2 separate regions of the Homo sapiens genome follow, and region 1 is linked to region 2. Evidence: fine-mapped expression QTL. A gene starts in region 2. The other region holds a variant in brackets. All regions are shown on one strand. Distances are from middle to middle. Region 1 overlaps LINC02450 (long intergenic non-protein coding RNA 2450). Region 2 holds the start of PRICKLE1 (prickle planar cell polarity protein 1).

Region 1 (2,911 bases), 110 kb after region 2:
AAAAGTAGTTGCAGAGGCTACTCCCTTTGCAAACCCCCACCTTTTCTGCAGCAGATGGGAGATTGAAAGTACCTCTGATTGGTTTGCTTTTTGCAACCAATCAGACATTTGCATAGGAGTGTCACTTTGTAACTTCACTTTAGCCTCTGACTGGTTGCTTCCCACAACCAATCAGACGTTTGCATGGGAGTGTGACCTTTATAACTTCACTTCAGCCCCTGATTGGTTGCTTTCCGCAACCAATCAGACTGATTGTGGGCCACCACCTCATTTACATGAGGTGAACGCCTAGTGGCCAATGGGAAACCTCTAGGAGGTATTTGGCCCTGAGAAGATTCTGTATCAGGGGCCCTTGAGCTGCTGCTGGGGCCTGCTCCCACACTTTCACTTTCTATTTCTTTCACTTTTCTATCTCTGCTTTGGTTGCTTCATTCTTCCTTGCTTTGCTGTGTTTTGTCCAATTCTTTGTTCCGAACGCTAAGAACCTGGACAACTTGCTGTAAAGACCCTCTACTGATAAAACCAGAATCCACGAGAATAATAAAATAATTGTTTCATGCCATCAAGTTTGGGAGTGGTTTGTTACACAGCAATAGCTAACCAGAACAAGTTGGGAGGATTTATCTACACCAAACCTGTTTTTAACATTTTAGTAAGGTTGTAAAGAAAATTTGAATAGTATTATTTCTATTGTTTCAATAGCTTTAAATCATGATGGCAAGCTGTAGTTATTTGTTTACTGAAACTTCAGAGCAAAATAGACTAAGAATTATTGGAAATTTATACTTTTTTCATGTAGGATCAAATATCATGAAGGGAATTGTCATTTTCATTCCCACATCATCTCCTTAGATTTTGAGTAGAGGGGCTGGCTGTATTCCTGTTGGCTTCTACTTCTACAAGGAATGAGAATTGAGCCTCTCCATTCTTAATGTCTTCAGAGTGGGATCCCACACATGAACTGTTCTAGCAACTCCTCTCTCTGGCATTCAGTCTTTCAGAACCAGAGGCAGGCAGAAAGCAGATGCTCTGTGGATAATTTGGGAAGAGACAGTGGAAGAATTTTATCACTTTGCAGCTCTAAAAGATACTTCAGACTATTGGCTTTTTCTGAACCCAGATGTTTCAGCTCTGTGGTTTATCTCCTTGTCTGTTCAAGAAGATTGTAAGATCTCTCATGAGCTTTCTCTCTTGAAACCTCGGGGCCTTTGCTTGAATGATTTACTTTACCCAGAATGGCTCCTTTCAATCCCTAGCCTTCTAAGTCCAGTAGAAATTCCACCTCTTTCATGAAAGTTTTGTGAGTTAGCGGCAACACTTCAGACTTCTTAGCACTTTGTTGGCACTTCTTTTAGAATTCTTAACGCCGCCAATGCCTGTTTCCCTGATGAGATCGCGATGCCATTCTTGGCGGGGTTTCCATCTTGTT[T/C]TCCTTCCTGACCCCTACTGTGGTTTCTCAGGAAATGCTCGTTGAATTTCATAAGACGACCCGGGGGAGTGCCAAAATTGTGCAATCAGAGTCAAGACACTTGGCTCCCAGTTTGAGGTCTGAGCCAGGTCTGTCAAGAGGAGATTCTGAAAATGGTCTTGTGACCCCAGAAGATTCTTCATGCTACTGGGCCTCCTCAGCTTGCTCCTCTGTAAAGTGAGACATTCAGAGCAAGGCAGTGGTTCTTAACTAGGTACACTTTTTCAACACCACGGGTGCCCAGAGGGTCTGATACATCCTTGGTTGTACAACCTTGGCTGGATTTACAATTTATAAGATGCCTTCCCATTTCAGTAATATATGGGGGCTGTTGGATATTGCTGTAGCCTGTGGAGTTAGATGGAAGGAAGTAAGCAGATTGGAATTACAGGTTAGGATTTCAGAGACATAACAAAAAAAAAAATCCTCTGAATAATAATAGCTAATATTTATGAACCGGGTGCTGTGCTGGGCTTGGAATGCCTTATTTTATTTACTAGGCACACAATGCCCTTATGGGGCAGGCACTACTATTATCCCGTTTTATAGATAAACTGGGGTTTAGTGAGGTCAAATAATGATCCAAGTTGCTGAACTAGGTTGCTAAGCACCGGAACTGAGATCAAACCCAGGCTCTCTGACTTCCGAACCTGTATTCCTAACTACTCCCTGGCTGCCTTTCTCTTAGTTTTTGCTTTTATTGTGTGGAGCTGATCGTATGTTTATTAAGTATTGACTTTATCAGTCTTTGCAATTCCACTCTATGTTCTGTATAATATTTGGTTACTGGTAGTTAGGAAGTGATGTTCACTTACAACAATCTTTTATAGAGATAGTGCATGGAGGCGTGGTTGGGCCGTTTAATTTTTGAAAATTGCAGCATACCATACCAGATTCACGAAAAGGTGGCGTCATTTTATTCTTTCACACATACAGTCATGAGTAGCTTAATGAGAGGGATACATTCTGAGAAATGCATCACTAGGCAATTTTGTCATTGTGTGAACATCATAGAATGTACTTACACAAACCTAGATGGTATAGCCTATTGCTTCTTGGCTACAAACCTGTACAGCATGTTACTGAACTGAATACTGTAGGCAATTGTAACACAATGGCATTTTTGCATGTAAACATACCTAAACAGAAAAGGTATGGTAAAAATATGGTGGTATAATCTTACGAGGAGCACTGTTGTATATATGGTTTGTCATTGGTGGAAAGGAATTTGAAAGGAATTTACTTTCTGAAGGGAATACCTGGAGTTAAAAGAACATCTGGTGTTACAAGGTCATCAAAGACCAGGAAATGTATCAAGTCTTCTGGAAACTCACCCAGAGTTCTCATTAGTGATGAGGGAATTGCTATTCTGTAACTGCATAGATGGAACAATGATAACTCATATCCATTGCAAAATGTTTCACCCCACAGAGTGATTAAGCA
Region 2 (2,911 bases):
TGTCACCTAAGTGACAGGCAACAGCTGAGCTCACACATCTGGAGCCGGACTACGGCAAACATTAGCAACCCTCACCAGTCTACACCTTGGGCCTGTCTGAAAAGACAGATGGAAGTTCCCTCTACTCCTAAAGTACATTAAAAAATGTCTGATGGTGAACCACATCAATTATATAACATCAACTGCAGGCACAGCCTTCCAAAGTACTGATTAAGACGAGGCAGTAGACAACACTGTATGCATGAACAGATACAAGATACCATTTCAGTGATTTGTCATTCATAAAACTTATCCTAAAAGACACATATACATGCATCCATTTGATAGCACAAATGCATGTTAACTCTGCAGGAGAGGCAGATTTTTACATGTTTTTTTGGTTGTAGTTGTTGGTGCTTTTTTTTTTTCCTTTAGGCTGGTTCCCGTGGTGTGTTTGCCTTGTTCATGGTCTCAGTTCTGCCGCTGATACCCTTTTAAAAATCAGCAACCAAACGCGTTCGGCTTGTGATCCTGAACCCTCCTTAGGCAAGCTGGAACTAAGCGTGATGCAGCCGTCCTCCCTCTCTCCCAACCCCCAACCTCGTTCTTCAGCCTCCTGAAGACAATCTGTGAACAATTTTCCCAAAGTCCCAAGAATAACACAGCACTGCCAATAGTCACTGGCGATGCCGTTTGTTTTTCTTAGAGGGTAATGAAAATTTAACAGCTTTCTGCTGCATCCTGAGTCCCGCTCCTAATAACTATTAACATGCCTAGTTTCTTCAACTTTTTCTACCTCAAGAGAGGAAGACGCTCCCATTTTTTCCCTATATCTGTGCTACATTCAGCAAACACCATCGCGGGGCAGGGGGTTGGGGAGAGTGGTGGGAGTTGATTCGCCTCTGCCAAAAAGCCACCAGCCCCTTTCCCCAGCGCTAGAGGAGAGAATCGGTACCCTCCCTCCGGACGCCAGTAGGTGACAGGCGATCCTAAGCGGCGGGAACACGCCAACGCACCCTCGCCTCCCGGCGCCCCGCATCGCCTCGACCCTCGGGCTACAGAACCTGTTTCCACGCCGGAGAAAACCAAGGGAAGAGTTGGTTGTGATGCAGCAAACAGGAGCCATGCGGAGAGCCTCTGCGGAGCCCTGGCGATGCTGCAGCCAATATCTGCTTTCCCTGTCTACACAGCCCAACAAACCGATTATGACCTTCTCCCTGATCTTCTGCGACACCGACCCAGTCTGGGTGTCACAGACTCCGGCGGTGCCAGCGAAGGTGCCCGGCCCTACCCCTGCGGCGCTCGCCCCCCACCACCGCGCCGCAGCCCCCTCTGCGGAATCCGCCGGGATCCAGGCTGCCACTCACCTCGCGCGAGGGAGACGCAACTCGGCTGCACTGTCCTCGGCGCCGCTGCGGGGCTGCTGGGCTGCGGGGCTGCGGGGCTGAGGAGCTGCGGTCCGCGGCGTCAGGGGTGGGCGAGGGTGAGCAGCGCACGAACCATCCAGAGCCCAGAAAGTCTCCGTGCCGACCGCGGCGCGTCTCGGGGAAGTCAGCGCAGGCTGCGCGAGGCTGGCATGTTCCGGGCGCGCTGTCGGGCGGCGGCGGCCGCGGGAGACGGCGCTGGCAGCTGGGCTGCAGGCGGAGTGCGCTCGGGCTCCGGAGCCGCGCGCTGCGGCGCCGCCGCGCACCCCGCCCTCGGCCGCGGGGCCCGGCGCGAGCGAAAACGCGGAGCGCGGACGCCGCCGCGGGATCGAGGCCGCTGGGCGCGCGCCCACGCGTACCCCGGCTCGGCCCTGAAAGCGAGGTCGGGCCCGGCTCGGGCCGCGCCCGGGGGCAGGGCTGCGAGCAGGCCTGGGACCGGCTCCACGCGCAGCCAGTGGGGCAGAGCAGCAGGCGGATTATGCGCAGGGAGAAAAAAGTTCACCAACCGCGGTCCAGAGTCGCAAGTGCGGCTCGCTCGGAGCCTCTGCCCCGCCCCCGATTATAAGCCTTTTTTTTTTTTTTTTTTTAACCAACAATCCCGATGGACTGAAACACAGGAAGAGTGAAGGGACGGGGTGGGGGGTGGGGGAGAGACAAACCCAATTTCCTCTGATCAAACGATTTGGGTAGGGGTGCCTATTTGAGTTCCTTCTCCTTCGGGGGGTGTGTGAAGGGGGCAGTTAATTAAACACTTAGATTCCTTCCGGCGCGCCTTGCCGAGCTGGGGACCCGTTTGGACTCGATCCTGTCTCGTGTAATCCCACAGGCTGGTCTGAGTCTCTGCCCCGGAACCGGAGGAGTGATCTTTCAGAGCAAGAAGCCAAAGTTCAGCCTCTAGTCCGTTCCCTTCCCCGCCTCGACGGCCCTGGTCGTCTCCATGAAAACTCAGTGTGGGGGATCGTGCCCGCGAAAACCTCAGCCCACCGCAATGTCCAGAGCCTGACCCAAGTGAACGTGGCGCACTTAAAAGCGGGTTCAAAGCATTGATCCGAACACGGTGACAATTTTTCACTGGCCAAACTACTCTCCACATTTTCAGTCTGCTCAATTCCCAGAGCTGGGCTCTCAGGCGCACTCACCCACGTTGAACTGGGGCTCAGCCTGTTTGAAAGTTCTGCCCTGACATTTGTGTCACACTAAACCTTAGAACCCCCCACCCTCTCCAGTTCCGGATCGGTGGAGTCTCACCGTGTGGGTACTATTTCCCTGGACTGCAGAGGGCAGACACAGGCGGCAGCTGTTAACCCGAACTTGACAGGTGCCTCTGCAAAGCCAGGGCTTCCTTGACCTCTCCATCCTCTCCACAACGCTCTAGGATACTGTATCATCTTCCAGGAAGATGAGGATGTGTGTGGGGGGAGTGTGGAGGGAGGTGTTGACTGATGCAATTTTTATCCTTTTAAGAAAAATCAAAACTGCCAGTCTCAGAATTTCTCAGAACATCAAGT

What was found. PIP is the estimated chance that this variant, and not a neighbour inherited with it, causes the effect.
Region 1: its variant is fine-mapped to the expression of PRICKLE1 in whole blood (TOPMed, PIP above 0.99). The same link has a PIP of 0.9 or more in blood mononuclear cells and monocytes.

The regions. Positions count from the first base shown.
Region 1 is chr12:42,695,470-42,698,380 of GRCh38, forward strand. The region is part of intron 2 of LINC02450 (long intergenic non-protein coding RNA 2450); the gene reads left to right. Among named protein-coding and RNA genes, the nearest start is that of LINC02450, 4.7 kb to the left of the region's middle. RefSeq lists a silencer at 239-318. The variant T/C (reference allele first, on the strand shown) is at 1,430.
Region 2 is chr12:42,588,119-42,591,029 of GRCh38, forward strand. PRICKLE1 (prickle planar cell polarity protein 1) reads right to left here and starts at 1,628. Exons shown (of 8, transcript NM_153026.3): 1 at 1,347-1,628. RefSeq lists a silencer at 1,632-1,881 and an enhancer at 2,351-2,908.